2 separate regions of the Homo sapiens genome follow, and region 2 is linked to region 1. Evidence: fine-mapped expression QTL. A gene starts in region 1. The other region holds a variant in brackets. All regions are shown on one strand. Distances are between the middles of the regions. Region 1 holds the start of ELOVL2-AS1 (ELOVL2 antisense RNA 1). Region 2 overlaps ELOVL2 (ELOVL fatty acid elongase 2).

Evidence for each region. PIP is the estimated chance that this variant, and not a neighbour inherited with it, causes the effect.
Region 2: its variant is fine-mapped to the expression of ELOVL2-AS1 in spinal cord (GTEx, PIP 0.92).

The regions. Positions count from the first base shown.
Region 1 is chr6:11,033,729-11,050,267 of GRCh38, forward strand. It overlaps ELOVL2-AS1 (ELOVL2 antisense RNA 1), which reads left to right and starts at 10,030. Exons shown (of 5, transcript NR_038964.1): 1 at 10,030-10,097; 2 at 14,181-14,271; 3 at 15,381-15,491. It overlaps ELOVL2 (ELOVL fatty acid elongase 2), which reads right to left and starts at 10,577. Exons shown (of 8, transcript NM_017770.4): 1 at 10,500-10,577. The coding sequence starts at 10,502. RefSeq lists a silencer at 10,473-10,672 and enhancers at 11,107-11,607, 11,608-12,108.
Region 2 is chr6:10,976,498-10,993,036 of GRCh38, forward strand. ELOVL2 (ELOVL fatty acid elongase 2) reads right to left here. Exons shown (of 8, transcript NM_017770.4): 6 at 13,821-13,945; 7 at 13,206-13,340; 8 at 4,262-7,409. The coding sequence ends at 7,284. Among named protein-coding and RNA genes, the nearest start is that of ELOVL2-AS1, 59 kb to the right of the region's middle. RefSeq lists an enhancer at 1-186. The variant C/G (reference allele first, on the strand shown) is at 7,241.

The sequences.
Region 1 (16,539 bases):
AGAGAATAAAACCTTTATCACTTTTTTTATCCTCCCCAGAAGAAAAATCCTTAATGTCGAAACTAAAATCCATCATGACAGGAATATGAGAATTTTTAAAAATGTAAATACATGTGGATTAATCAAGATTGTTTTATAAAAATCTCTATTCCAGGCATAGAGAAAAAAGTTAGGATTGTAAAGATAAACATGATTAAGTTTCTGTGGGTAGCAGCCACCAGTTTTGAGTGTTTACTATCAAGGAATCTTCACTATGTGTGAGTATACATATTTTAGCCATGAGAATACTGATATTCAAATGACTAAACAATTAGTAAGAAGTGGAGTAGGGAACTGAATCCAGGAGTGTGTGGTTAAAGAGAGAATTTTTCAGAAGCTGGCAATATGAAAATAAGTGGAAAGAAGTGACATATTAGTTCAGCCCCTTTATAACCTCCCTATCCAGTCTCTCCCAGCCCTGTATATTATGAAAATAAGATTAAACTTCCTAAATGATATTTTCATCATTTGACTCCCCATTTCAAAAGCCTAATTGTTCTCTATTACCTACAAAATCTAGAAGAAACTTCTTAGCCTCAAATTCAAGACTCTTTAAAATTTGACTTCTCTCTCCTAGCATAAATCCCATTATCCTGTTGGTCCACAAACTTCACACATTTAAAAAACACTTACTGCCGGGCATGGTGGCTCACGCCTGTAATCCCAGCACTTTGGGAGGCCGAGGTGGGTGGATCACTTGAGGTCTGGAGTTGAACACCAGCCTGGCCAACATGGTGAAACCCCATCTCTACTAAAAATACAAAAATTAGCCGGGCATGGTGGCACACACTTGTATTCCCAGCTACTATGGAGGCTGAGGCAGGAGAATCACTCAAACTCAGGAGGCAGAGGTTGCAGTGAGCTGAGATTGCGCCACTGCACTCCAGCCTGGGTGACAGAGTGAGACTTTTTCTCAATAAATAAATAAATAAATAACAAAAAGCACTTATTAGGGCTAAATGTGGTGGCTCAGGCCTGTAATCCCAGCACTTTGGGAGGCCGAGGCGGGTGGATCACCTGAGGTCCGGAGTTCGAAACCAACCTGGCCAACATGGTGAAACCCAGTCTCTACCAAAAATACAAAAATTAGCCAAGCGTGGTGGCATGCGCCTGTAATCCCAGCTACTCTGGAGGCTGAGGCAGGAGAATCACTTGAATCCAGGAGATGGAGGTTGCAGTGAGCCGAAATCACACCACTGCACTCTAGCCTGGGTGACAAAGCAAGACTCTTGTCTCTAAATAAATAAATAAATAAATAAAATAATAATTAAAAACACTTACTGAGCACCTAATCTGTGCTAGGCTCTGTGAAAACAGCCTTGTCCATAAATTGCTCAGAGTATAGTGTTCCATAAATATATTTGTGTTACTACTTTCTGGGGCCTTCACCCAGTTATTTCTCCTAAATAGACTGTTCTGTTCTACACTACATTCCTTCCTTCCCTACATACCAAAATCCAACCCCTTCATGAAGCATACACAAAACGATTTTGCTAGAAGTTCTTCCCATTCATTTGGACCCCTAGAGCGTAAGATTTCAAATTTGTGTGCACTTGATTGTTGGTATACAGATCCCTAGGCCCCTCCTCAGAGATTCTCATTCTGTAGGTCCGACCTCACGTAGCCTAGGAATGTGCATTTAAATATATCTGTCAGATTCCTAGGTCCATGCTCCTTCTATCCATCCTTTCACACAATCGGTTTCATCATTTTCTCCTCTCACTGAATTGACTGCTGAGTACTGTGGTGTCACACAGACATAGTCTTGATCTCAGCTTTATTAATCCCAGTGATGTTGGCTCTTTAGCTACCAGCCACCTCTTGGTCCTGAACACATTCTTGCCATGATAAAGAATAAAAGTTACCTATGCTGTAGGGTCTAGATTTTTTTGTCATAATATTACTAGTCGCATTATTAGACTAAGTCTTTCTATTGGATGGAATGGCACATGGACACGGAGGCACATTTACTGGACTGAGTGGTCCAAACACTGCTGACTTGTGAAGTATGCTTGCACTGGAAGAGACAAAAGAATCTCTTTTTGTACTACAGATTTCATGAAGCAGGGGCTGTCTTTTATATTTAAATTGACAGTGCTTACACACTGCCTCTAATTGAGCAGTACTGAGCACGTGCTGAATGAATGAACAATGAGTGTATCTAATCAAAAAAATGACTGAGGCAATGTATTTGCATGTCTCGAGAGCAATTTTAAAGAATATGTATTCAACGTAGAGAGCATATTTCTTTCCTTCAAAAGGAGAACAAATGCAAAATATTAATTCCAAAGTTTACACTAAGGACTTAAGACTGTTACAGACATATGTTCTGTCTTACACGAAGCAAGTACTGATGAGATTAGTGTTACGAAAGGTATTAAAATAGGGTGTTTCTGCTTACTTTTAAAATTGTAAACAGAAAGTCATTTATGAGATAGTAAACCTAATTTACAAAAGGAACATGATAGCATTTTAGTAGCAGTGGCAGGACTTTAAAAGCTTTGATGTCATAATCCTGCTATTTTTTAACAGAGAAACATGGCTTCCAAAATATAGTGAAGCCAGTGTGGTTGCTTTGTATTCTTGAGTTTGATGCAGACTTCAGGCAGTAAATCTCAAAATGACTTGTGATATATGCCATTTTTTTTAGGAGTCTGAACACAGAAAAGGCCAAAGGAAAGGGGGCATTCTCTTCCTTACAAAGGAATAACAATTCCCTGGGCTCTGGAGATTGAGATGTGAAATAGCCCACATGTACCATTTCGACTGCGTTGCCCCGGAGGAAAGCACAGCCAACTGAGTATTTTTCTGACATCCCAAAGCACGCTCTTCAGCATAAATTCACCACTGACATTAGAACAGTCATGAAATCTGCATTTCCAAAAGTCAAGGAAGCTACAGATCCAAGAGAATGTCTTCCCTGTAACAATTTCAGGAAAGCTTCTAGAATGGGAGCAGAAAGGATCAAGGTATTGGCTTCCTGTTTGTCCCAGCATGCCTTGGAGAACACTCTGCATAGACCTTCCAGAGACAAAATAGAACATCAGTTGTTCAGAACTGAATTTTCAGGAAAATTGAAAATAGCCTAATTTTACTTTTGCCTTATGGACATATTCTGTTTTCTTCTTTCAAAGCATGAGTTAATTTTTTTTTTTTTGAGGAGGGAGAGAGATGGAGAGGAGAGAGAGAAGGAGAGGGGAAGAGAGATGGGGAGAGAGAGACAGAGGAGGCAGAGAGGGAGAGAGAGACAGAGAGGGAGAGAGAGACAGAGGAAGAGAGGCAGAGAGGGAAAGAGATAGAGAGGCAGAGAGGGAAAGAGACAGAGAGGTAGAGAGGGAAAGAGGCAGAGAAGGAGAGAGACAGAGAGGGAGAGAGAGACAGAGAGGCAGAGAGGGAAAGAGACAAGAGAGGCAGAGAGGGAAAGAGAGAGGCAGAGAGGGAAAGAGAGGCAGAGGAGGAGAGAGACAGAGGAGGCAGAGAGGGAGAGAGAGACGGCATGAGTTAACTTTTAATCTAACTCCTCAGTGTAATGGTCAATGAGCTCTTTGACCCTGCCAAAGAAAAAAAAGGCTCCTCCCCATTGTCATAATGCATGTTAAACTCCAAGATCTCATTAACCAAATTCTGCTTAGTCACGTGGAAAATTCAACAGATTTAAATCTTTAAAGTATTGGAAATAAAACCAAATAGTAAATACCATATATGATATCAAAATTTTTGTGTAAAGCTACTGCTGTTCTGATTAATGTTTGAATACTACACTCGTTCTACTAAAAAAAAAAAAAAAAAGTGATGGCCTTACTTCTCTTGAAAATTACTACTATAAGGGAGCACTGTACCAGCCACATGCTCAGTACTGCTCATTTATAGGCAGTGAGCCCTCAAGTCACTCAGGCCACTCAATGTTCTTCTATGTCTGTGTACCATTTTATCCAAAAGAAAGCTTTGTTCCCCTTAAATTATATTAGTCAGTGGATTAAGTTTGATAAGTACATATGGATGTTGTTCACAATCACCTCCATTTCAAATAATATTTTCCTTTGCAGGTTCCATTTTCTGTATATATGAAATGAAACTTAAGACTTTATATATTTAATATGTTTAAGTGTATATATGCAATATATGTATATATCCATATCTATCTATCCATCCCTGTAATTTATGGGAAAGAAACTACATGGGGAAGTCACTCTGATTTTTCCATTTTCATATGTAATAATGGGGAAAAGTACTACTGCCTTTCTCAAAGGCTAAGGCTATATGGAATAGCAGAAGAGGTGGTTATTTTGGATTGAGAATATTTAGAGCTGGTTTTGCTACCTCTAGTATGTGACCTTGGGCAAATTATTTATCTTCTTTGAAACTGTAAAGTAGGTATGTTGCTACAGGACTTGCCTCTCACAAAAGTTTTTTTGTGAGGCTTCAGAAAGAGTTAAGGTGGATTAAAATGCATTGAAAAACATTCAACTGATTAATAAATGTAAAATAGTATTATTATACAGTACTTGAATCATATTTAAGTTATGCTAACTAAAGGCCACACATATATGTAAAGTAAAAATAATTATTTATTCAGCATGGTGTGCGCCTGTAGTCCCAGCTACTCGGGAGGCTGAGGCAGGAGAATCGCTTGAACCCTGGAGTCAGAGGTTGCAGTGAGCCAAGATTGCGCTACTGCACTCCAGCCTGGTGATGGGGCAAGACTCCAGCTCAAAAATAAATAAATAAATAAATAAAAATAAAAATAAAATTACTCAGCAAATCCATATATCATAGCTTTGTTTATATTTTAAGATAATCATTTTTAATTTCAGCAAGAACTTAATGCTATAAGTATAGATTTATCTAAAAATAGAAATACATATGCATTTTAATTTCATTAAAAACTTATGATGAAATATGGATTAAATTATTTAAAAATGACATAACCTGGCCCTTTCCACAAATATGACTATGAAGTGTAAATATGCTGTAGGAATACATATTATCATTTACTAAAAGGTTACACAGGCAAATGTGTATTGATGAAGCAGCTGTATTACTGAAACATGCTCAAACTGAATTGTGATAATTAAATAATTTTAAATTTATCAAGAGATTAATGATTAAATGGTTCCAAGTGCTATGTAAATTAGCAAACTGCTAGTTTTAAGTGCTGTGGAAAAAAAATAAAGCAGTGTAAGAGGATCAGGTGTGGTACATATCCAACTGTGTGTGTGAATATGGTGTGTGACATATGGTAAGGCAGGTTCCAGTTTTAGTAGAGTGGTTAGGGTAGGTCTAATCATGAAAGTATTAAGCAGACAGACATAAAGCTCTCTGGGGGAAAGATGTATACAGCCAAAGGGCAGCCAATGTAAAGATGCTGAGGCCCCATTTGATTCTAACAAAACAATCTTGTGACAGAGATAATACACCATTTAGCAAGTGAGTAAACAGTGTCTCAAAGCAACTTAAGCAAGGGAATGGAGCTAGTAAACAATAAAGCTAGGGCTAGAACCCAGGTTTCTTGACTCTTGGTCCAGTGCCTTTCGTTTTCTCCCTCTGTTCACCAGGCACACAGGAAGGTGCCCTGTTTCTTAGAAAGCACTGCATAAACATCAAGTTTCATTGCTATTGTGGTGGTGGTGGTGATTGTGATTATTAATCAGTTCCATGATATTTCTCTGTTACTATTTTTTAATTTATGCATCATAGTTGTACATATTCCCAGGGTACATGTGATGTTTTGGTACATGTATACAATGTAATGATCAAGTTAGGGTAACTGGAATATCTATCACTTCAAACATTTATCTTTTCTTATGTTAGAAATATTACAATTCTCATCTAGCTATTTTGAAACATAAAATAAATAGTCATATAATTTCTCTACTGTACTACAGACTACTAGAATCGATTCCCTCTGATATTTCCTGAAAGGAAAATAAAACTCAAAGAATGATTTCATCTTCCCTTCCCCTAGCTTATTTTTCTCCTTTATCTGTGCTTCTTTTCTTGAGTGGATCATTTTACTATCAGACTATCTGTGAAAGTAATTATACTTCTCTGGATATTTGACAAAGGAAAGGTATTAAGGGTAGGAATAACCTATAAAATAGAAACCATTTCTGACAACATGAAAAAGGGCTGAGGAAGGAATGGAGAGAATGTGGAGCCCAGTGATTCAGCGAGAGATATACATTTTCCAAGAGACAGGAAGTAAAAAAGTTAAAACAAAGAGTCTACAAAAGAGGAGATCTGTAGAAAAGGCAAAAATGGTGGAAAGGGGGCTCAAGGGGTGGAGGAAAGAGATTTTGAAATATTTTCAAGTAAAAATATGAGAATATTAGACAACAAACAATATAAAATAAAAAAGAGAATAAGAATCAGATTTCAGACACAGTAGACTGAAGAGCTGGTGGAATTACTAACAGCAAAAGAGAACAGAGAAGAGAGTCTGAAAGATGAGTAGCTTTCTTTTTGTAATGCTGGGTTTAAGGTGGCAGTGAGGTTCTCACTAGTGGAAAGGGTGTAAGAGCTTTAAGAGGTAAACTTGGAAGTTGTGTACAATCTAGAGCTCTTTGTCCAATACGGTAGCCTCTAACCACAGGTGGCCACTGAGCCGCTGAAATACGGCTAGCCTGAACTGAGATGCACTCTAAGCATAAAATACACACTAGATTTTGAAGATTTTCTATGAAAAAAAACAATGGAAAAATCTTTTTCTGCATTGATTACATGTTGAAATATTTGCATGGATTGGGTTAAATAACATTATTAAAACTAATTTCACTTGTCTCTGTACTTTTTAAATATGATTAGTAGAAAACTGAAAATTACATATGCGATTTATGTTATATTTCTATTGGACAGCAATATTAGTTGTATATTAAGACCACAAAAGGGACAGAGACATCATTCTGAAGTGTCTCAACTAAAATAGATATGGGAGAAAAAAGAACACACATCATTATAATAGTTAATATTTACTAAGCACTCCAAGCACTGTTTTAGACACATAAAGGGCACCATCATATTTGTTCCTCCCGAAAACCTTATGAAATATTATCATCTTTTACAGGATAAAATACTGAAGCCCAAGGTCACACAGTTAAATGCTGGTGTCAGGATTCAAGCCCACGAATGACCTCAGATCTCAGGTTCTAAACTGTCACATAAATTTCAGAACAAGTTATGCTCTCCAATTATTAAATGGTTAGATTTAAAATGTCATAAATTAACTATTTATTAGAATTGTTCATTGTCAAAGTCAGTTATGTCCCAATTCAATTAAGAAGAAAAGCTACAAATGCGTGAATCTGTAACTGTAGAATTACTATGAGCTACTGATGCTGGCGTATTTTCACCACATTGGGCCATTAAAGAAGTTTCTGGTGCAACTTCTTTCCCCTTATCAATGTCTACTCCCAGAAATGCAAACCTGTCAAGTTAGATGATACATATCCAACTGTCCAACCCAGACGATCATCCACCTAACCCTGAATAGCAGGGCCCTGTTTTCTGAACATAACTAGATACATAATATCTACTTGACACATTTTCAACATTCTCTTTCGGAACATGAAAGCACCTGAACCTCCCAAACTGACTAAAACGTTTTGAAGGAAACTAGATTAAATGGAACCCTTGTTGAAGAACCAAAAATTAGGCTTACCCAACTGGATACTTTAAAAATTGATTTTTTACTCCTTGAAAATGCTATACGTTCGAAGAATCGAAAGAGAAAAAGGCTGGATACTTTGGAATCCTAGGAATCCTAACAGTAAAATATCCTACAAATAGAAACTTAAGTCAATAAGGTATCTTTCATTCATCTTTGGTTGGTTCATTGGTTTTAATTTCAAAGACAAACTTATATTTCTTTCCTTTTTACCTTTAATTTCTACTACCTACCTGGGAAAGATGGTAACCACAGAACTGCTGAACTTACATAGTCATAGCTATAATTACATAATTTTCAAAAACTTATGTAAATTTTATTAAACAATTTGTTTCCAATTAATACATTTCTCCAGACTAATTTTTAAAAAACCAATGCCATAAATCCACATTATAGAAAAACAAAAGGAAATTTGAAAGAAAAAATATTTATTTTGGAATAATAAGACTAACTAGCAGAGATATCTTACAAGACAGTTCATATTGGACATGTATTGAAAAGGATGTCTCTCTGAACTGACCCACTAAGTTATTTATAAATTCAACCCCCTAACTTTCCTACTCCCTGCCCATTTTTTTTTTAAAGTAATACGATTTCAGCCGGGCATGGTGGCTCATGCCTTGTAATTCCAGCACTTTGGGAAGCCGAGGTGGGTGTTGATCACTTGAGGTCAGGAGTTAGAGACCAAACTGGACAACATGGTGAAACTCTGTCTCTACCAAAAATACACAGATTGGCCTGGTGTGGTGACGTGCGCCTGTAATCCCAGCTACTCAGGAGGCTGAGGCACGAGAATCACTTGAGCCCAGGAGGTGGAGGTTGCAGTGAGCCAAGATTGCATCACTGCATGCCAGCCTGGGTGACAGAGTGAGACCCTGCCACAAAAAAAGAAAGAAGAAAAAAGTAATACAATTTGGATTTGGGTATTAAAAAAAAATTCCTCTGAAGACCCACAGTTTCTGAGAAATACTTATCTAAACAGGAAGCATCACACTTGGGCAGGATAAAGCTTTCAAGAGCTTGCCCTTGATTTTAGCTCTTTTAGGTTAACATTCCCATGACTTTCCTATTCAGCTAAAGAGATTTCCTTGGACTTATTCCCTTACTCACTACAATTCCTACCTATACTTTAGGACAAAGCTTCAGAGCCCAAAAGGAGAGCCAGTTGGTCCTAAAAATGCTTTGTCCACTCTGATGCCAAGGTGCAAAGAGCATGAAGCGACAGACAAGGCATAAGAGATAGCCGCCTAGACTCGTCATTGAAGGCTGCCAAAATCGGGTCCCTCCTGTCGGGAGTATCTCCCTCCTCCCAAACTTCACTTGAGACTCTCATCATTACAAATGTCAACTGCATAATCTTTGCAGTTACTCCCCACCTGTGCATTAACATAAAGCAGCTTGCTTTATTGGGTTAATTCAAAAGAGTTATCAAGTACCTACTGTGCGCCAGGCACTGCTGTAGGTACTAGAAATCTAGCAAGCAATGAACGAAATGACAAAAATCTGTGTCTTCCTGAAACCTATATTCTGGTAGAGGAGACGTTCAAGAAACAAGCTAAAGAAACAAAATATGCAGTACGCTAACTAATACATGCTCAAGAGAAGACAAATGAAGCAGGCAAGGGGAATATACACTGTGGTGGGCGGGGTAGGAAAGGTTGGAATTTTAAGATTAAGTGGTCACACATAATCAGGCAGATGGTACGTGCCTAAAAGGGTAGCCAGAGCAAAATCAGATGGAGTGGGGAAGAGAAAGGAAGTGCGCTTATTTTAACAAGTCCTGAAGTGGAGAGAAAACCCTACGGGAAGGGGGTGAGGCAAACACTGAATATGGACCACTGAAGACAAACGCGGATTTCACATTTTGCCTAAAGACCAGTCCTTTGAGGATGGCACAACAGATGTTCTCCCTTTGTAACCAAAGAACCAGGCTCTGCTACTAAAACTGTCAGGCAGTTCATCGGACACGGGTGAACACACACACACACACACACACACACACAGCTTACTGTCAGGCAGTTCATCGGACACGGGTGAACACACACACACACACACACAGCTTACTGCCGAGGAGAAAGAAGCGTTACTAATCCAGAGTGGAGGACTGGCCTGGGAAATCGGGCAGAGAGAGGAGTTGTCGGAAAGAACACACCAGAAGCCCCTCCGAGCCCAGACACTGATAGAAACCCAGCCGCTTCCCAAGCCAATCTGCAAACCCAGGAGGCACCCACGAGTGCACAGACACACCCCCGGGGTGCAGGCGCGGTGAAGGGAGGAGAGGGGCAAGAGCTTGACCGTTAGGGCCCGAACCCCAGAACTCCCGAGGCAGGGTGTGTGCCGCGCGCGGGAAACGCCGTTCTCCGCTCCAGGCGTCGGCGGGCGGTGGCGAGAGCAGGTTCGGGGGTCCGGAGGGTCGGAGGGTGGGCTGCGCGCGGGAATGGCCGCCGCGAAGGAGGGGCGGCTTCCTCGGGCATCCCGGGCGCCCGGCCCCGTGCATGCAACAGGGGACTGGGCGCGAGCGGGCGCCTCGAGGTGCCGGGGCGGGACCGGGGAGAGGGGACCGAGACAAAGTTCCCGAGACCCGCGGGCCTCGGGCCGACCCGCGCGCCCCCGGCCCAAACGCTCAGCTCCCGCTCCCCAGGCCCGCGCGGACCCGGCCCCTCCGAGGGTAGCGGGTTCCAGCGGCGAACCCGCAGCGCCCGCGCCGGCGCCCGCTCGGCCCTTTCCCGCCCGGTGCGTGGGTCCAGGAGAGAAAGAAAGCGCGGCGGTGTCGGTGGCGGCGCGCGGCCCCACTCACCATGATCCGCAGCGGCTGTGGCGCGGCGACCCGGGCGGGCGGCGATGCGCTGTCCAGGGTAGCCGGGTCCCTCTGCCCGGCGCTATCTCGGCGCCCGCGCCGGTTACCCCCACCCACACCCACGCCCGGCGCGCGCACACCCGCCCGCGCCTCCCCGCCCCCTCGGGCTCGCGCCGCCGCCGCGCGGCGCTCCGAGCCTCGGGGCCGTTTCGTCCCCGCCCCCTCTCCCACAGGGGCCTCGCCGGCCGCCGCGCCAGGAGGGCGCGCGGGGGAGGGGCGCAGGGCAAGTGAGGCGGCGCCCCCCGCCCCTGCGGCCTCGCGCGCCCCCTCCTGGGCGACCGACCTCGCCCTCGCGTCCGCGGCGTCCCCTGCCGGCCGGGCGGCGATTTGCAGGTCCAGCCGGCGCCGGTTTCGCGCGGCGGCTCAACGTCCACGGAGCCCCAGGAATACCCACCCGCTGCCCAGATCGGCAGCCGCTGCTGCGGGGAGAAGCAGTATCGTGCAGGGCGGGCACGCTGGTCTTGCTTACAGTTGGGCTTCGGTGGGTTTGAAGCACACATTAGGGGGAAATGGCTCTGTTCCTGCAGGTTTGCGCAGTCTGGGTTTCTTAGGTTTAGGGGGTTGGGTGGGTTTCTCTGGGGGTGCGGTGGGAAGCGGATCAGTTCGGATAACGGCCCTGAGCAAGAGTCTCTGTCCCGCTCCCGGCCTGACGCGGGGCTTCCAGCGGACACGACCAACGGTGAGCGCACCCTCTTCACTGTGAACAGAACGGTGGCCTCCTAGAGCCTGCGCTTCTAGTTACTTTAGTTGTGTGTGTGGCCCAAGTGAAAGACGTCGAAAAAATTGGACTTGCCTGAGTATTACATGAACTTTCTTCCATTTCTCCCTCAAGCATGGGAAGTTGGCGGGCGTGGTGGTTCCCTCCTGTAATCCCAGCACTTTGGGAGGCTGAGGCAGGCGAATCACTTGAGGTCAGGAGTTCGGGACCAGCCTGGGCAACATGGCGAAACCCCGCCTCTTAAATAAAAAATACAAAAATTAGCTGGGTGTGGTGGCCTGCGCCTGTGATCCCAGCCACTCGGGAGGCTGAGGTGAAGGATGGCTTGAGCCCTGGAGGTGGAGGCTGCAGTGAGCCGAGATCACGCCACTGCACTCCAGCCTGGGCGACAGAATGAGACCCTGTCTCAAAAAAAAAAAAAAAAAAAAAAAATGTTTACCACATGTGAGGCTCATGTGGTAAACATGTTTATTGGGGTTGAGAGCAGCCCGTGTGGCTGTGCACGGAGGTACCTGCACCATACACTTAGCATCCCACACCTGGGGCGGTGTGGGAGCCCTTGCAGAGTTTTGTGCAGTAGCAGAGTGAGTAACTGTAGGTACCGGGGCTAAATCTTAACTGTCATACAATCACCTAATATATAGTTTCCTAATAGAGAGTTTTTCTTCCTAATATAGAATTTCTGTAGCTGAAGTGGTAAATATTAGGCATATATTTGTTTATAAAAGGCGGATGATTTTATGACCATAAACAGGTTAACCTAGTCTGATAAAAATCTCAGGAGTCAGCTCTGCCACATACTGGGTGTGTGGTATTGGGTTGGTTACCTAAACTGTCTATGCTCCAGTTTCCTGATTTACGAATTTGGGATAAAATAGCACTTAACATTACATGTAGCTGTTAGGGTTAAATTAATATGGGTAAAACTCTAGAAAAATATCTGGTACAAAAGTACTAGTTATTGATTTGTTATCAATTTGATGCATTTGAGAATCAGAAAGTGATATTCTATTTAATGCTGGCATATTTTTATAAAAAAGTGTGGCCCAAATCAAAGATACAATTTGATTTCAGCTTCACTTACTTTGTTCACTCAGCAAAGATTTCAGTGCCTACTATGTGCTAGGCGTTTTGGTAACAGCTAGGGTTACAGTGATGAAGAAAAACACAGTCCCTGCTGTTAGGAGTTTTTAGAACCTGTGATGATCTATATTATGATATTGAGAGACTTGAAGGAAATTCACACGAATAGTCCCCAAATATTGTTTTTCCTTGGAATGATTTTATTCTTTCTGTTTTACCTGTGTTCTTTCTTCTATTTGATACGTGTTATATTTGAAAGCTATAAAAGTAGCTTCCACGTCTTTTGGATATTGAATGATAAAAACTCTGGACCTGAATTTCACTGTATCACTAATCTGATGCAGTATAATGTGAATTCTTAATCTAGATAGTGATTTTTTGACATTATTGTGTATAAGTAGCACCAGAGGGTTTAATACTATACAGGGATACTTGAGATCCATCAAGATGACCTCAGGTACAGACCAAGAATATGAATTTTTTTTTGGTTTTGCTTTGGGTTTAATATTTGCTATCAGTTTCACATTGCGGGAGTATCTACTTCATTCCAGAGGCATCTCTGACCCTGCATAAAGTATAATGGACTCTCTATGGGTCTTGAAGTGGTGAAACCTCCATTTCTAAGGAATATGAATTTTGAACAAGCACCACAAATGATACTGGTGCAGCCAGGCAGTCCATGGATGATATTTTGAGAAACTAAATTCCATTATCCATTCAGGGAAAGCTTTAGTCTATTTTTCTAACAACATGAAGGGAAAAAACAATTTTAAGTGACAACCGACCTCTAAGAACCCTGCGGCTGTTGCTTGCAAAAATTGTATCATTGATGTCATCTAAACCTTGCAAAGCACACCAGGTAAACATGGGGAAGGAATTCTTAAACTTTGAATTATCCCTATACTTCCACATTACCATTTAGCCTGATAATCATTATTTTACCTTTATTCTCTAAAAATACACATCAACCCATAAGGCCAGAAGGAGATCTAAAAAGTCATCTATATCTTATCTGTTTCTTAAAATATTATTTTATGGCTTTCCTTATCACTACAACAAAGGAACAAATGAGACGGCAAATGCCAGAGGGTCTTTTTCCCCACCAATATTTTATTAAATAGAAAAAGGAAGTGGTGGCCAGGTGCGGTGGCTTATGCCTGTAATCCCAGCACTTTGGGAGGCCGAGGCAGGTGGATCACAAGGTCAGGAGTTTGAGGCCAGCCTGGCCAACATGGTGAAACCCCGTCTCTACTAAAAATATGAAAATTAGCTGGGCGTGGTGGCGGGCACCTGTAATCCCAGCTACTTGGGAGGCTGAGGCAAGAGAATTGTTTGAACCCAGGAGGCGGAGCTTGCAGTGAGCCGAGATAGCGCCATTGCACTCCAGCCTGGGTGACAGGGCAAGACTCCATCTCAAAAATAAATAAATTAATTAATTTTTTTAAAAAAGGAAGTGGTTCTACCTGTATAAACACAGGACTGGAAACATATCTTAACCAGATATAACTGGGAGAGGGTCTTAACTGGGTATAACATGAATTCCCACTTAATGGAAAATTTAACATGCCATCACTTACATGATTTTATAATATTTACTTTCGTTGTTCTCTTGTATGGATTACACAAAAGCTGGACTCTGTTTCTTAGCTGTACGGCAAGCCCATATTGAGCATGTGTACAATAACATAGACTAATTGTGTGTTAGGTACTTACATGGATGTGGTGCTATATAAAGTGATGATTAGCATAATCTAAGAATCTTAAACCTAAAAATAGAGATCTGACTGATGCTCTTTCTCTCCCTCTGTCACATATCGTAGATTTTATAGGTTCAGAAAGTGTGTCTCAGAGGAGTTAGAGAAGACCGATTAATAGATGACAGTGCTAAAGCCTGGATCTCCTGAATCCTGGGTGAGTATTCTCATTGTCTCTACTGCCTCTGCAGTGCTAGTCTGCCAGCCCTCATCAAAATTATGAAGTAGGCAAGCTTTGTTTTGGGGGGAGTTTAATCTCCTTTTAGTGTGGTTCTCTTCTGAAGCATCCCTTCTTTTGATATACCTAGCATCTTTGTGTTTTATCTTGAGAAAAATACTCACTTACAATGTATTATGACTTTAAATCAGTTTACTACATTTCTTCAAAGTATTTGTACTTTTAGGGTAGTAGTAGAAACAGACTCTGGAAATCACGTCCTTTCCTTGGCCATGGGCTCTGCTTTGTGTTAAGAAAGCTCTGCACCTATATGAGTTTAGAAATGAAAAATAGTAAGATAAAGAGTAAAGATTAAGCCCAAGTGAAGGCACATTGAAAAAACTGAGTTCCCTCCATCAAATTTAGTGCAGCTTTCACTCGATATGTTAGGACTAAGGATTTATGACAAAGCAATATATGTATATATTGGTCATTTGATTGGATGTAGTAACAAGGAGACAATCATGACCTTGTATCAATCCAGGTTTAAAATAAAGTTTATGTTAATTCATTTGAAAATATTATGCTGAGTACTATATTCTAGTATAACATTCTAGAGCAGAGGATGGCAAACTACAGTGGCAGGACAAATCCAGCCAGTTGCCTGCTTTTGTAAATAAAGTTTGTATTAGAATACCACTGTGTCCTTATGTTTACGTATTGTCTGTGGGTGCTCTCATGTTAGGACAGCAGAGTTGTGACACAACTGTATGGTCTGCAAGTCCCCACATAGCTACTATTTGGCCCTTTACAAGAAAAAGTGCCAATTTCTGTAGAACTTGGATGATATTAATATGGTATGGAACAATATAGGTGACTTCCCTTGTTTTATGAAGCTCATATTTCAACGAGAGGAAGAAGACAATAAGTCTAGATAGAGAAATGTCATGAAGAAACAGTATGATGATAGAGTGACTTGGGGGTAGCACTTTATTTTTCTAGGTTTTTGCTTTTTAAGTTTTTTATGTATTTTAATTTTTATATATTTAATGCATACAAGTACAGATTTCTTTTTTAATTATTATTATAATTTTTTATTTTACTTTAAGTTCTGGGATACATGTGCAGAATGTGCAGGTTTGTTAATAGGCATACGTGTGCCATGGTGGTTTGCTGCCCCTTCAACCCGTCATCTAGATTTTAAGCCCCGCATGCATTAGGTAGGTATTTGTTCTAATGTTCTCCCTTCCATCACCCCCCAACCCCGACAGATTTTGGTGTGTGATTTCTTATATGCATATATCGCATATTGGTGAAGTCTGGGCTTTTAGTGTACCCATCACTAAATAGTATACTACCTGATAGGTAATTTTTCAACCCTCCTAATTTTTCAACCTGTTAAAGTCACCAGTGCCATCCACGTTGCCGCAAATCACATGATTTCATTCTCTATGACTGACTGGTATTCCACGGTGTGTGTATGTATGTGCATGTATGTGTACACATTTTCTTAATCTAGTCCTCCATTGATGGACACTTAGGTTGATCCCATATCTTTGCTATTATGATTAGTGCTATGATGAACATACAAGTGCAGGTATCTTTTTGATATAATTATTTCTTTCCCTTTGGGTATATACCCAGTAGTGGGATTAAGGGATCAAATAGTAGTTCTATTTTTAGTTCTTTGAGAAATCTCCATACTGTTTTCCATAAAGGCTGTACTAATTTACATTCCCGCCAACAATGTATAAGCATTTCCTTCTCTACATCTTTGCCAATCTGTTGTTTTTTGACTTTTTAATAATGGCCATTCTGACTGGTGTAAGATGATGTCTCATTGTGGTTTTAAAATGCATTTCTCTGATGATTAGTGATATTGGGCATTTTTCATGTTTGGTGGCCACTCGTATGTCTTCTTTTGAAAAATGTTGGCTGGGCGTAGTGGCTCATGCCTGTGATCCCAGCACTTTGGGAGGCCAAGGCGGGCGGATCACGAGGTCAGGAGTTTGAGACCAGTCTGGCCAACATAGTGAAACCCTGTCTGTACTAAAAAGACAAAAAATTAGCCGGGTGTTGTGGTGTGCACCTGTAATCCTAGCTACTTGGGAGGCTGAGGCAAGAAAATCACGTGAACCTGGAAGGTAGAGGTTGCAGTGAGCTGAGATTGCACCATTGCACTTCAGCCTGGGTGGCAGTGTGAGACTCTGTCTCAAAAAAAAAAAAAAAAGTCTGTTCATATTTTCTGTCCATTTTAAAATGGGATTA
Region 2 (16,539 bases), 57 kb before region 1:
GAGCTCCCCTGGCCTGAAAAGGCAGGGCGGGGTGGCAGGATGCAGGAATCGATGTGCTTTTCCAGGCAACACGGAGAGAAGGCTGGACCAGGAGGCATCCTGGAGATGCTGACATCCAGCCCTCGGGGAAGAAGAGCAGCGTCAGCTTCCTCACCCTGACCTTGGGGACTGAGCCAGCCTTTGGGCCCATTCCCAGCCCTACACTCAGGCTCCCTTCCTTTTTGACTCACTCGTAGCCGGGAACAGCCCTGTAGCTACCCCAGCAGACTCTGTTGCCATCTGTGGCCTCAGCCTCATTTGTCATTTTAGGTGTTCCTCTGTGCTCTGACCTTCCATCCTCCGAGCAGCTCCCCTGAGGATTTGCTTTGCCCTCAGGCAGCAGATGAACTCCTGGCTTTTGCACTTGGAACCTCAGCCAACCAGGCCTGCGTGAACCAACCTCCCCTCTTGACTCCTTCCCCAACCTTCTTCCTGTGACAGAGACCGAGGCCAGTTTTTTTGCAGGGTTCAGGGCTCTAGTAGACTGCTTTCAGGGGGATTTGCTAGAGGCCATAGATGACTATAGGGAAGGGTCTTCTTTCCTGTATCGTATTAAGTTTTTATTGAACTCTATGGTTTTAAGAACTTTTTAAATTTTAGATTCGGGGGTGTATGTGTAGGTTTGTTAAAGGGTATATTGTGTGATGCTGAGGTTTAGGCTTCTGTTGACCCTGTCACCCAGATAGTGAGCATAGTACCCAATAGGAAGGTTTTCAATTCCCCCACCCCTGCCTTTTGGAGTCCCCAGTGTCAATTGTTCCCCTTTTATGTCCATGTGCACTCAAGGTTTAGCTCCCACATATAAGTGAGAACATGCGGTATTTGGTTTTCTGCCCCTGCATTAATTTGCTTAGGATAATGGCCTCCAGCTGCTTCCATGTCACTGCAAAGGATATGATTTCATTCTTTTTTATGGCTGTGTAGTATTCCATGGTGTATATATACCACATTTTCTTTATCCAATCCACTGTTGATGGGCACCTGGGTTGATTCTGTGTCTTTGCTATTGTGGATAGTGCTGGATAAACATACAAATGCAGGTATCTTTTTGGTAGAACAATTTATTTTCCTTTGGGTAGATGATACCCAGTAGTGGGATTGCTGGGTTGAATGGTAATTCAGGTTTTCGTTCTTTGAGAAATCTCCAAACTGCTCTCCACAGGGGCTGAACTCATTTACATTCCCACCAACAGGGTATACGCATTCCCTTTTCTCTGCAGTCTCGCCAGCATGTTGTTGTGGGCATTTTTCCCTGTGGTGACAAAGGCACCTGAAGCATCCCCTGCCCCAGCCCCATGAGCTGAGCAAGGGGCCGGCTTCTTTCTTACTGCTTCCTCCTCCTCCATCTCAGCTGCAGTCACTCAGATGCTCCTGAAAGTATTCAACACATACACCCCTTAGCTCTTCCTCCCTTTCAGCAACTACTGTAACTGTTCCTTCACATCCCTAGTTCTTCAGAAGGATTTTCATATGGCTTGCTTCATCATTGTTTTTCTTCGACTTCCCATTCATTCTAAAGCCCCCTGTAATCTGCCAACTGCCTCCCAAGGGCCAAATTCAGTGCCTTCCCCCCCCACGCCTTCACTAGTTGCTCACCTTGCTGCCTTGCAGCGTTTTTCTCTGTTTAAATATTCTCTTTTTCCTTGGCTTCTGGGACACCACTTTCTTTGAAGTCTATTTGAACTCTTCACCCGTCAAAACTAACCTCAGGCATTACTTCCTTTAGGAATGTTTCTCTGGCAATATATATATATATATATATATATATATTTTTTTTTTTTTTTTTTTTTTTTTTTTGAGAGGGAGTCTTACTCTGTTGCCCAGGCTAGAGTGCAGTGGCGTGATCTCGGCTCACTGCAACCTCTGCCTCCCAGGTTCAAGTGATTCTCCTGCCTCAGCCTGCCAAGTAACTGGGATTACAGGCATGGCCACCACGCCTGGCTAATTTTTGTAGTTTTGGTAGAGACGAGAATTCACCATGTTGGCCAGGCTGGTCTCGAACTCCTGACCTCAGGTGATCTGCCCATCTTGGTCTCCCACAGTGCTGGGATTACAGGCGTGCGCCACTGTGCCCGGCCTCAATACTTATTTTATAGCTAAATGTTTATCTACTTTATTAGACTATGAACTCTGAGGACAGATATTTCATCTAGATCATTCTATATCCCTAACACGATACGTAGTGCTGGACAAGATTTGATGAATTTTTAGACTGAATATAACTATTTCCAGAGTTTATCAAACTCCATAGGTCTAAACTAGCTTGAAAAGAATAGGAGCTGGTTCTACATGAGCTGTCTTACGTACAGTGCTTCAGTCTCAGAGAAATCTGCAACATCTATCATTTGTTTCTAGGGCCACTGCCGGTAAGTCTGTGTTCATCTCCCTGTAAGTATATCATATGGGCCCAGGCGAAACTCTATATAGACTTTCTCCTTTTGTTGTTCAATGTATAGGCATCACAAATTCAAATGCCTTCAGGGGCCAGCCAGGTTAATAGGCTGAATAAAAAGGATGAATGGGCCGGGTGCCGTGGCTCACACCTGTAATCCTAGCACTTTGGGAGGCTGAGGTGGGCAGATCACCTGAGGTCAGGAGTTCGAGACCAGCCTGGCCAACATGGCAAAACCCTGTCTTTATTGAAAAAAAAAAAAAAAAATTAGCCGGGAGTGGTGGCACATGCCTGTAATCCCAGCTACTTGGGAGGCTGAGGCAGAGGTTGCAGTGAGCTGAGATCACACCATTGCATTCCAGCCTGGGCAACAAAGTGAGACTCTTGTCTCAAAAAAAAGAAAAAGAAAAAGGATGAGTGATGGTGATTGTGGCAACTACAAGAGAAAATGCCCATCTCAAGTCATCCAGGTAGCTATAGACCATGGCACATGCAACATCAAGGGATGTGTGACAAGCTTCGCCTTCCTCAGCCTACCAAATGTGGTCACAGACACTTTCAGAACAGGCTCCCGGTGGGTTGCTCGTTAGATCCACAATGACCGCATTTACCAATTGCTCAATGAGGGTACGGATTACAGATTTCCTTGTCCTCTCAGTGTTATTCCAGTGTTCTGCAGTGCAATTGAAGATGGAAAAATGACCTACAAATCAATAGCTTTCAGTCTTTTTCCCCCTATGACTGAAAGTCATGTTTTACTGAAGGTCAGGGAATCCTGAGGTGACTGTAGTTAGTCTCCTAGGAGTGATTATTTCCTTGCATACTCTGGAGAGAAACTCTTCCTTAAATATGGGAATGTAATTTTTCTTGGAAGAGAGCCTGCTGTAACAAAAACACATGCTGAATTTTTTCTTTGCATAAAGGAATTAAGAGGCTTATTGATGTGAACGCTTGTTGAATAAGCAGCTCTTTAAGTTTGTGACAACAGTTATTAGGCTTGCCATAGAGACATAGGATTTATCTTTTATTTTTAAACACAAAGTTTTATTAAGTTCCACCCACCATTTAAAATAACAAAGGGAAGGCTCCTCTAAAACGTTAACCTCCCACCCCAAACTCTAGCCCCCATTCAGATAGCTAAAATAAGGTCTTCTCCTATTCCCTCTTCTCCTCCTGCCCTTCCTTAAAATCTATCCTGTCCCACCTGTCACTATCCAGGAATTTAAGCAATTTTTTAATCAGACTTTGAGCACATCTTTTGTAGTTTTCTTTAGGATCTGTGTCTCATTATACTTAATATCACATTCAAAACTCGACTCTCTACACTGACAAAACGCCAACCTGTGGTCCTGCCCCTCGCCTCAACTCTCCCAGGCATCCTCACAGTCAGGCCTCACTCACCTACATCTCCTCCCGAGCTGAGCTGACCACCTCTCTCCCCATGCAGGTGCTCTGTGAATTGTATCCTGGGTTTCAGGGCATTGCACGATGTCGTTCCTGCCTAAAAATTTCTCCTCAAACAAATCTAGTGCTCCTCCCTAGGTGGCTTTATATAGCAATTTATTAATTATCGTCTTTATATCCTCTGCTAATCTTACGTTTTTCTAGTGAATGGCCATTTTTGAAACAGCTTAACTTGGTATATGAATACAATGTAAAGGTAATGATATAATCCATTGCTCACTGAAACAAGAGAAGAATTAAATGTCTAAAATTCATGGCTAAAATAATGCCTTATTGTAAAAATAACTCCCAAGTGATAGGTCATTTGGAATTCCATGCAGGCATACATTTTAACTGCTTTGAACCAAATAAAACTCGCAACATGCATTTAATGTAAAAATCAATTTATTATACAACAATCATAGATAATGCTTTTTATCTACAAAGAGAAATGGCTTCTGCAGCCTCCCTGTCTACTCCATTCATGATACTATGTTCTTAAGATATAATTACTTTCAAAGGAAAACAAAGCGATATCCATATTTTCCAAACAAGGAAGCCCCCAGACACATTTATGAACGATATGGAAATATTGGAAAGAACTCAAATGGACTCCTAGATACAAAAGGCTGTTCTGCCCATCACAGTAAACACTGTTTTGCCTTAAAATAAAAATAATAAAATATTTCTCAAATGCAGGGGTGAGGACTTTACCCCGTAACATGCCTAAGTGGTTCGATATATAATTTTGATGGCTTGACAATTGCTATGTTTAATTCCATTCAGTTAACATTCCATTTTGTTAGTTTAAAAAATTGGGGGAATTATTAATAGATATGCTTTACAGTATTTAAGTATTTTCATTCCCATGGGTCAGAGGAAATTTGAGAGAAAACATTCTCCATTTTTTTTAATAGATTATAGAAATATTAATTTTTCAATAGTTTTAGAAAAATCACATTAAAATAAGCATTTTGGTTTTTTGAAGTTACAACACTTAACGACAGGTTAAAATGTTTACCTGATTTATTTTTTGTGGCTAAGATTTCATAACTATTTTTTTAATTAGCCCTTGAATGGTTTAAGGCTATAAGTGTTTTATGAAGCATCTCTTGAATTGAAGACCAAATTGGAAATACACATCATGAATGAAACCTCTCTCTAGTCACTGGCATTAGTTTGAAAGTATAAGCTACCCACATTTTTCACTTTCATCAGAGAGGTTTCAAGCTGCCTTGTACTTAAAGCTGCTTGACTTTGTCTGCTGAAGGACAGCTCCCTCCTTGCCATACAGATATGAAGCCCAGGAAAACATCCAGAGTGGCAGGTATGCTATGCACTGAGACCTTAGGGCCTCACTGGCACGTAAGAATAAGCTGAATGTGATGACCAGTGAGCATATTAGACCAGTCTGTCTTCTAAGTCTCATTTTTATCTGGAACGCACTTTGGTAAGAGATTTCAGCCTATATTTGAGATCTAAACTGAACTAGGGTCCAGTTTCTCCAAAGGGCTTTCTCCTTGGTCCAACTTGTGTTTTGTCACAGAGGAGCCATTAACAGTCATGCTTGAAGCTAGCCCTTGTTTTAAAATAAATTGCTGGGAGAGAACAAGACAGAACAGTTATAAGGTGATGCAAGATGGAAGTGGTGATGAAGCACCCTAGAGCAAGTCAGCTTCAGAAAATGATTTAGAAAGATAAATGTAAGAGTCAGGGGCATCACACAGGAGACATCTGTTCAACAGAAATGGGTCGGCCGCACTGAAGGGAAGGAAGCAGGTGCAGTGCATCACCCTAGAGACTATCCTAAGCATTAGGCACCTTCCAAAAAATATGCCCAAATCCTCAGAGGGGCAGTTTACATGAAATAAAAGTACAATTTTTTTAACAGGAGAAAGTTTAAAACTAGAGCTCAGGGGGGAAAAAAAGCCGAGAGAGAAAGGCACTCTGGACGCTAATGAGTGGGGACGGTGGTGGAAATGCCTTTCTGGTGTGCATGTATTTGATGTCAGTGTCAGGACCTAAAAACTTATTTAAAAAAATAAGGCAGGAGAGAAGATGAAGTGACTTCATCGAAGCTAACAAGTTTTATTTTATAGGGTATAAATTAATCTTCAAAAAAATCTTCAGAAAATATTCTTTGTTTCCATTCTTGGTAGAGTTTAGTAGTGAGTAACAGTCCTGCACTTATGGAGAAAGGAAATACTCATTAATACTTTTGTCTACTTTTGTGCTTGCTTCTCGGTAGAGATCGCATATACCTGAGCAGGGAACAGGAGTGCTGAGTTTGCCAAACTGGCATTTTTTATCGTGGCTCATGACCGGCCCACGGCTCAGTGCTGGAATCTTTCCAAGCTACTCCATCTTTTTCCTCCCAGCTTCAAAAACTTAAATAACCTGTGAAGAGTGACAACAGGTATCTGAGGTAATATTCACAAGTAGGCTCACAAAAAAGAGTTGACGAATTCAGTGCCTATTTTGCTCCCATCACTCTGCTACTTCTGCTAGTTCTGATTTATACATATTCCAGCAGCATGCATGTTCAAAGAAAAAGGTCGGAGTGGACTCCAGTGCTTGCTCAGAAAGTAAACGGGCAGCCAGATTTGTACACTGCTCGTGGTGTGGAGCATGGCATCTGTATAACCTAGGCTGACTGGCACAAGAGGGAGACATGAACAGATGAATGATTAGGGAAACAGAGGAACAATCCTATCCACAGCCCCTGAATTATGAAAATCTTGCAGAAGCATTTTTTTCTCCTTAGAATAACTAATATTTAAAATAAATACCAATTTCATTACCATATCACTAAATTTAGAATCAGGAGTGGTTGTGGGAATCTGATAGACAAGACTCTGGCTTACAGAAAGAGAAGTTTTGCTAGATTTTTCTATCTTCTGTGTATGATCCCATTTTAATATTTTCTGGGGTTGATTGCTAAAGGAACAAATGGAATGATTATGCACTGGCATTATTGCTTAATATAGATTAGAACATACCCTGTATTTAGAATATAATTAACATTTTGTTGTAAACATTTTAATCTGAACAAAACCCTTTTTATTTGGAGACTCTCTGTGAGAAACAATGCTCCACGTTTCCTGGCTGTGTATGCGTATAAGGCGTTATAAGGACAGCTTCTGGCGAAAGGTTCAGTCTGTGGGAGGGAGGGAGAGAGAAGCTGCACCAGTTCTGAGGTCCTCGGAGGTGAGCATCACCTCAATGCTGATCAAAGCATTCAGTTAACAGATTAACCTAATAGCAATATATTAATACATTCTGGGTACAAATGATTTATGAACTCAAAAGAAATTAGTTTATCCTAAAACATGTAACCTTCAATTCAGTCTTTGCTTTAAAACAAGC[C/G]AATCTGTTAGGCTAGTATATGTGCTTTTTCTGTTACTCATTTTTATTGTGCTTTCTTGTTCATCACTCCATTTGCTGCAGTGAAGTAGGCTTTGGAAAAACCATTCTTCACTTCTTTCCCTGCAGGTGGCTCTTGCATATCTTTCTTCATTGGCTTTTTTCGGTATGTCTGTTGGATGTGTATATTTTGAAGAGAAAAATAAAAAGGTTATTTAATAAGACCTTGTCTTTAACAGTGCATATAGTTAAAACAGTATGTGATTTTGTTGGGCGCAGGATTTTCTGTTTTTGTCTTTTTGAGGCAGAGTTTCAATCTGTCACCCAGGCTGGAGTGCAATGGCACGATCCCCGTTCACTGCGACCTCCGCCTCCCGGGTTCAAGTGATTCTCCTGCCTCAGCCTCCCAAGTAGCTGGGACTACAGGTGCACACCACCATGCCCGGCTAATTTATGTATTTTTAGTAGAGATGGGGTTTCACCATGTTGCCCAGGCTTGTCTTGAACTCCTGACCTCAGATGATCCACCCGCCTCGGCCTCCCAAAGTACTAAGATTACAGGCGTGAGCCACTGTGCCCAGTTGGGCACTGGATTTTCTAATAAGATTTCATGTTTATATATTATATTTTTTATTATTATTATACTTTAAGTTTTAGGGAACATGTGCACAATGTGCAGGTTAGTTACATATGTATACATGTGCCATGCTGGTGTGCTGCACCCATTAACTCGTCATTTAGCATTAGGTATATCTCCTAAAGCTATCCCTCCCCCCTCCCCCCACCCCACAACAGTCCCCAGAATGTGATGTTCCCCTTCCTGTGTCCATGTGTTCTCATTGTTCAATTCCCACCTATGAGTGAGAACATGCGGTGTTTGGTTTTTTGTTCTTGCGATAGTTTACTGAGAATGATGATTTCCAATTTCATCCATGTCCCTACAAAGGACATGAACTCATCATTTTTTATGGCTGCATAGTATTCCATGGTGTATATGTGCCATATTTTCTTAATCCAGTCTATCATTGTTGGACATTTGGGTTGGTTCCAAGTCTTTGCTATTGTGAATAGTGCTGCAGTAAACATACGTGTGCATGTGTCTTTATAGCAGCATGATTTATAGTCCTTTGGGTATATACCCAGTGATGGGATGGCTGGGTCAAATGGTATTTCTAGTTCTAGATCCCTGAGGAATCGCCACACTGACTTCCACAAGGGTTGAACTAGTTTACAGTGTAAACACCAACAGTGTAAAAGTGTTCCTATTTCTCCACATCCTCTCCAGCACCTGTTGTTTCCTGACTTTTTAATGACTGCCATTCTAACTGGTGTGAGATGTTATCTCATTGTGGTTTGGATTTGTATTTCTCTGATGGCCAGTGATGGTGAGCATTTTTTCATGTGTTTTTTTGGCTGCATAAATGTCTTCTTTTGAGAAGTGTCTGTTCATGTCTTTCGCCCACTTTTTGATGGGGTTGTTTTTTTCTTGTAAATTTGTTTGAGTTCATTGTAGATTCTGGATATTAGCCCTTTGTCAGATGAGTAGGTTGTGAAAATTTTCTCCCATTCTGTAGGTTGCCTGTTCACTCTGATGGTCGTTTCTTTTGCTGTGCAGAAGTTCTTTAGTTTAATTAGATCCCATTTGTCAATTTTGGCTTTTGTTGCCATTGCTTTTGGTGTTTTGGACATGAAGTCCTTGCCCATGCCTATGTCCTGAATGGTAATGCCTAGGTTTTTATGGTTTTAGGTCTAACGTTTAAGTCTTTAATCCATCTTGAAGTAATTTTTGTATAAGGTGTAAGGAAGGATCCAGTTTCAGCTTTCTACATATGGCTAGCCAGTTTTCCCAGCACCATTTATTAAATAGGGAATCCTTTCCCCATTGCTTGTTTTTCTCAGGTTTGTCAAAGATCAGATAGTTGTAGATACGCAGCATTATTTCTGAGGGCTCTGTTCTGTTCCATTGATCTATATCTCTGTTTTGGTAACAGTACCATGCTGTTTTGGTTACTGTAGCCTTGTAGTATAGTTTGAAGTCAGGTAGCGTGATGCCTCCAACTTTGTTCTTTTGGCTTAGGATTGACTTGGCGATGCAGGCTCTTTTTTGGTGCCATATGAACTTTAAAGTAGTTTTTTCCAATTCTGTGAAGAAAGTCATTGGTAGCTTGATGGGGATGGCATTGAATCTATAAATTACCTTGGGCAGTATGGCCATTTTCACGATATTGATTCTTCCTACCCATGAGCATGGAATGTTCTTCCATTTGTTTGTATCCTTTTTTATTTCATTGAGCAGTGTTTTGTAGTTCTCCTTGAAGAGGTCCTTCACATCCCTTGTAAGTTGGATTCCTAGGTATCTTATTCTCTTTGAAGCAATTGTGAATGGGAGTTCACTCATGATTTGGCTCTCTGTTTGTCTGTTATTGGTGTATAAGAATGCTTGTGATTTTTTGTACATTGATTTTGTATCCTGAGACTTTGCTGAAGTTGCTTATCAGCTTAAGGAGATTTTGGGCTGAGACATGGGGTTTTCTAGATATACAATCATGTCACCTGCAAACAGGGACAGTTTGACTTCCTCTTTTCCTAATTGAATACCCTTTATTTCCTTCTCCTGCCTAATTGCCCTGGCCAGAACTTCCAACACTGTGTTGAATAAGAGTGGTGAGAGAGGGCATCCCTGTCTTGTGCCAGTTTTCAAAGGGAATGCTTCCAGTTTTTGCCCATTCAGTATGATATTGGCTGTGGGTTTGTCATAGACAGCTCTTATTATTTTGAGATACGTCCCATCAATACCTAATTTACTGAGAGTTTTTAGCATGAAGGGTTGTTGAATTTTGTCAAAGGCCTTTTCTGCATCTATTGAGATAATCATGTGGTTTTTGTCTTTGGTTCTGTTTATATGCTGGATTACATTTATTGATTTGCATATATTGAACCAGCCTTGCATCCCAGGGATGAAGCCCACTTGGTCATGGTGGATAAGCTTTTTGATGTGCTGCTGGATTCGGTTTGCCAGTATTTTATTGAGGATTTTTGCATCAATGTTCATCAAGGATATTGGTCTAAAATTCTCTTTTTTGGTTGTGTCTCTGCCTGGCTTTGGTATCATGATGATGCTGGCCTCATAAAATGAGTTAGGGAGGATTCCCTCTTTTTCTGTTGATTGGAATGGTTTCAGAAGGAATGGTACCAGTTCCTCCTTGTACCTCTGGTAGAATTCGGCTGTGAATCCATCTGGTCCTGGACTCTTTTTGGTTGGTAAGCTATTGATTATTTCCACAATTTCAGAGCCTGTTACTGGTCTATTCAGAGATTCAGCTTCTTCCTGGTTTAGTCTTGGGAGGGTGTATGTGTCGAGGAATTCATCCATTTCTTCTAGATTTTCCAGTTTATTTGCATAGAGGTGTTTGTAGTATTCTCTGATGGTAGTTTGTATTTCTGTGGGATCGGTGGTGATATCCCTTTATCATTTTTTATTGCATCTATTTGATTCTTCTCTCTTTTCTTCTTTATTAGTCTTGCTAGCAGTCTATCAATTTTGTTGATCCTTTCAAAAAACCAGCTCCTGGATTCATTGATTTTTTGAAGGGTTTTTTGTGTCTCTATTTCCTTCAGTTCTGCTCTGATTTTAGTTATTTCTTGCCTTCTGCTAGCTTTTGAATGTGTTTGCTCTTGCTCTTCTAGTTCTTTTCATTGTGATGTTAGGGTGTCAATTTTGGATCTTTCCTGCTTTCTCTTGTGGGCATTTAGTACTATAAATTTCCCTCTACACACTGCTTTGAATGTGTCCCAAAGATTCTGGTATGTTGTATCTTTGTTCTTATTGGTTTCAAAGAACATCTTTCTTTATTTCTGCCTAGATTTCATGTTTATAGTATCATTTTTAAACTTCTGGTTAAAGATTAAAAATAAAGACCAAAACAAATGCATGTATTTCAATGACTATTAGAGGTCACGATTTGTATATTGTGGGGCTGGCAAAGTATTCTGCATTAGTTGCTCACTTGGAAAGATAAAACTTTTAAAAATAATTCAAGTGGAAAAAGTGCTGTTATTTTAAAATACCAATACCTGGGATTCTGGCTTGATCTAGTTTTTGGCATATCCTTCCTATTCTGACAAAATACCTGATCTCGCATCTCATTTTCACTTTTTTTTTTTTTAAAGCAATAGTATTAACAAGGATCCAAACTTAAATTATATGCTTGACTTCAGAACTAAGATGCAGTTTGAACCAGCATGTAGGGCTAAGGCTTTGAATGCCATTACCTACTCTTGCTGGGCTATACGCTTCTCTTCAACACGAGGTACCAAAATCACTCCCTTAGCTTCCCTTTAACACTTAGCGTTTATTGGGAAGTTGGGGGCAGGGGTTTGCACACCCACACATAGCTTTGTTTGGTCTCATCATTGATTATTTCTTTGGAAATCTTCAAAGGAAACCTTTATCTCTTAAAACAGCCTAGTCCAATTTCAGAAATACAAGACCTGAAAAGCTGTCAAAATTCAGTTTCCACTGTTCCACACTGTATAAAACCACTATGGGGATGTGTGTGGTGGTTCACACCTGTAATCCCAGCACTCTGGGAGGCCAAGGTGGGCGGATCACCTGAGGTCAGGAGTTCAAGACCAGCCTGAACAACATGGAGAAACCCCATCTCTACTAAAAATACAAGATTAGCCAGGCGTGGTGGCACACGCCTGTAATCCCAGCTACTTGGGAGGCTGAGGCAGGAGAATCACTTGAACCCAGGAAGCAGAGGTTGTGTTGAGCCGAGACTGCGCCATTGCACTCCAGCCTGGGCAATAAGAGCAAAACTCTGTTTCAAAAAAATAAATAAAAATAAAAACCACTATGGGTTAACTTTCAGCAAGTGCAAACTAAAAAGTAAAGCACTTCTTATTAGTCTGAAAAAAATACAGTTGAATACAATTTCAAAAGTATAGTTTTGAATATAAATGTACTTTGTTTTTTAAACTAAGCTTTCCATTTCCCCAGCCTACAAAAGAGAGCAATTTAAAATCTACATCCACCTGAGGCCTCTTCTCTGTTATAGCTTTCATCCGTTCTTGTACAACAGAGTGGCTTTGAAACTGCATTTTGAAGCTGTCTTCCATTTAAGTTGTTAACTAAAAAGAAAATGACACTGGATAAAGACGTCGGTGCGGCCTTTCCATCCTGGTTCCCAAACAAACAGTGAGGCTGCAACATCAGGGTAGCTGATAAGGAACCAATTTTTAAACATGAAATTCAATAAATTAAAAACATTGAAGAAGCCCTTGCTTTGCTCCATTCACATTTCCTGGATCTGTCTTACTATACACGTTTTTAACTTTCAGATGTCAGACTTTGGTAGCATGGTACAAATACATACTGCAAATTGAGAACTGTATATATAATCCAATGATATTTTTGATAAAACCTTATGTGTATGCATTGAAAAATGTTTTTAAAAATGCCCACTAGATTATTAACTGTGGTTACCCTTTGAGGAGGAGGGTGTGGAGAGAGGAGTTAGGAGTGCAAATTTCACTTTGTGTATCTGCTACCTGAATTTATCAACAAGCATGTGCTACTATAATATTTAATCAGTAAAATTAAACAAATATGTAATGTAAAAGTGCATGATCTAGGCTGGGCATAGTGGCTCACGCCTATAATCCCAGCACTTTGGGAAGCCAAGGCAGGCAGATCACCTGAGGTCAGGAGTTCAAGACCAGCCTGGCCAACATGGCGAAACCCCATCTGTACTAAAAATACAACAATTAGCCGGGCCTCTAATCCCAACTACTTGAGAGGCTGAGGCAGGAGAATCACTTGAACCCAGAAGGCGGAGGTTGCAGTGAGCTGAGATCATGCCACTGCACTCCAGCCTGGGCAATAAGAGCGAAACTCTGTCTCCAAAAAAAAAAAAATAGTGCCAATCGATTACATTTTACTGCTGAATATTTACATTCCACGTACCTGAACGTAAAAATTTAAGAAGAGGATGACTAACGTTAGCATATAAGATGACTGGAAGATGAGACAACCGAAGGGGAAGCCACACGGTTTCACGACGGCGCTCATGGTGTGCGTGATGGTGAGCACGAACTGCACCTGGGGACGGCAGAGAGGGCATCTCTGTGAGCGAGCCAGGCTGTGCCACACAGACACTGCGGCCAAGCTTGATCAATTCAGAAATCAACTCCTAGGACTCTTGGAATTATGTAGGAACAAAACAAAGCTGCTGAAGCAGCCCCCTCATCCAGAAATCTTATTTGAAATTAGTATGTGAAATTGCCCATGATTTCCTCATGGAAAAGTCGCAGTTAAAATTATTTAGACAAAAAGGATTTAACTTACACATTAATTTGAAAAGTAATCATCTACATTTCAAAGCAAGGAACTTTCCATTATAAGCTAATAGCATGCACAAAGGGCATTTCAACACAAAAAGTTTAATTCTTAAAAGGCCAATTTTGGAAAAAAAATGGGCAGCCTCATCACACATAAAAAGCCCTCTGACTTCTAAGATTTCTATTTCCTTTCCCCATCCATAAGCCACATGGAGAAAAGCTAAAAGAAGGGACAACATACCAGCTGAGCCTGTGTGAGATATTTCTTCCACCAAAGATACTTGTGCATAGATGGAAACACAGAAAGTCCATAGTAGGAGTACATAAGAATGTGGATAAAACTGTTCAGTGTTGGTCCAAAGAAACCTATAAAAGTACAGTATAAAAATCACTATTCTTCCAGGAAGGACTGTTCATTCTTCTTTGTCAAGTGAGATTCTCTCTCTGCATGGTAATTGAAAATGAGTAGCACATATGACATGATCATATAACAAAATCCACACTAATAAATTCCCCAATTACTGTGCCAGTTCTAGGATTCACCAAAAACTCCATGATAGAAGGAGTAGCCTGGGATGGTTTTTCAGAATGCCCCCCCCCCGCCACACAGGGGAACACCTTATCTACGAGGTTTTACTGTCTCTTTAACCGTCACTACTATCAGCTACTGAGGGAGGAAAAGAAATACTAGCTTAAAGCTGTTGGCAGAATTCCTCTGAAATAGAATTGTCTTTGCTTTTTAGCTAAACCTTTGATAAGACATATTGACAAAGAGCCTTTTGTACATGGCTGAACAGGGTGCTAGAGAGACAAAATATATTGCTTTCATAATTAAGTAAATAAATTCTGCCTGAAAGACACTTAGGGACCGGGAGGTGCTGGAGAAAGAATAAAGGAGACAGAGAAGGCTGGAGTGGCGGAGAAACTGGCCAGCGAGACCTTCCCAGTGATTGGCCATTGCAGAGACTTTTAGGATGAGGGATGTCTAAAATCCAGGCCCCTGCCATCAACCTCATGAAACGTCTCTGTAACTGCCTCCACCATAGGTGAATAAGGCTTCAGGAAACCATGGAGAAAGGGTCATGTACCATGCTGGGTCAGCTAAGCATTGAAAGGATTTAGCTGCAAGAGGTGAGATGCCACAGATGCATCACTTGTTGGAAATAAGGAAACTCAGTGTTGTGAGGATTTCATCAGTACATGAAAGTGCTTAGAACAATGCTTGGCACAAAGTGAATGCTCTTCAGCTGTCAGCCTGGGATCCAGATGGCTGTTCTGCGAGCTATCCTGTGGTGGGAGGGATTGTGGCATTAGAGGGCCATTTATTGGCTATGTCCCCTTGGAGACATTGATTTGACGTAAATTTTTATTTTCTTACCTGGAAAATAGGTATAATAATAATAACTAGCTCTTAAGTTTGGGATGAAATTAACTGAGATAATATATGAATTTAAAAGCACCGCACATATGCTGGCTAATAAATCAATTTAAATTCCCTAGCCTGGTTCTTTAATCCTAGATTAGTGATCTGGATAGCTAAATGCAAATTAATAAATAAGAAACAAAAGGTACAATAGCATGCATAGAGTAAATTCTCAACCAATACTGGCTGAAATAAACTGTTACGGCGCTTGAATTTATATGAAAACACAAACAGAGTTTCAGACTACCAAGCAGCATAGTATTAGTGGTATTTCTTTACCTACATGACTTTTCATTTCCATCAATTAATGAACCATGAGTAGTTGTTGCTTATGTTTGACTCCTGTGGAAATACAGCACCTTCCACAGTCACCATTTCACTGTGATACAGATTAAGGCATTTCAAAAAATTGAAAGTCTGCTCTGGTAGGTCAAAGTATCATTTTTCTAATATTCTTAAGCAGAAATTGTCACAGTATTTACAGGACTATGTCTGTACACAGTGATGATTTGGGTTTTAGATGCTTAGTGATTTGTAATGAAACTTGACAATCATAAAAATACTTAACCTTGGTAATTCTCCTCTAATATTGATTATAGTTGTCCTTCCTTAATAACTAAACTCAAGAAATGGATGTCTACCCGTCTAGAAGGACAGAGATCAATTCTTTCTTTCTTCCCCCTGCACTCACAGCAATTTCCTCCCTCACTCTAGTGTTCATTTGTACCTTCACAGTCACTGATACTCCAAATATCTCTGGGCACTTTTTTCCCTAATATCATCTCTACAAGATCCTAAATCCTGGAACAAAGTCATTTTGACTGAAGTTTTACATGTTCTGATTTTTCATATTGTATTTCTAAATTCTTGAGAACAAGACAGTATCAAATAGAGAGTACTGTTCCCTATAGCTCAGTGCATCTCAAACTGTAGGTCATAACTGACCCATTAGTGAATGGTGAAGTCAATGCAGTGAGAATTGTCATCAACTCTTTGTAAAACAGGATTAGGCCGGGCGTGGTGGCTCACGCCTGTAATCCCAGCACTTTGGGAGGCCGAGGCGGGCGGATCACAAGGTCAAGAGATCAAGACCATCCTGGCCAACATGATGAAACCCCGTCTCTATTAAAAGTACAAAAATTAGCTGGGCGTAGTGGCGCACGCCTGTAATCCCAGCTACTCGGGAGGCTGAGGCAGGAGAATCACTTGAACCCGGAGGCAGAGGTTGCAGTGAGCCGGGATTGTGCCACTGCACTCCAGCCTGGCGACAGGGCGGGACTCCATCTCAAAAAAAACAAAACAAAAAAAAACAAAAAAAAACAGGATTAAAAAATATATACAGTACATCATATAGAGCCAGGGTAAATACTGTTTCATAAAATATCATACAAAACAGAGAAATATGAATGAGGGCCAGGCATAGTAGCTCACACCTCTAATCCTAGCACTTTAGGAAGCTGAGGGGGGAGGATTGCTTGAGCCCACGAGTTCAAGACCAGTCTGGGCAACACAGAGAGACCTTGTGTCTACACTTTTT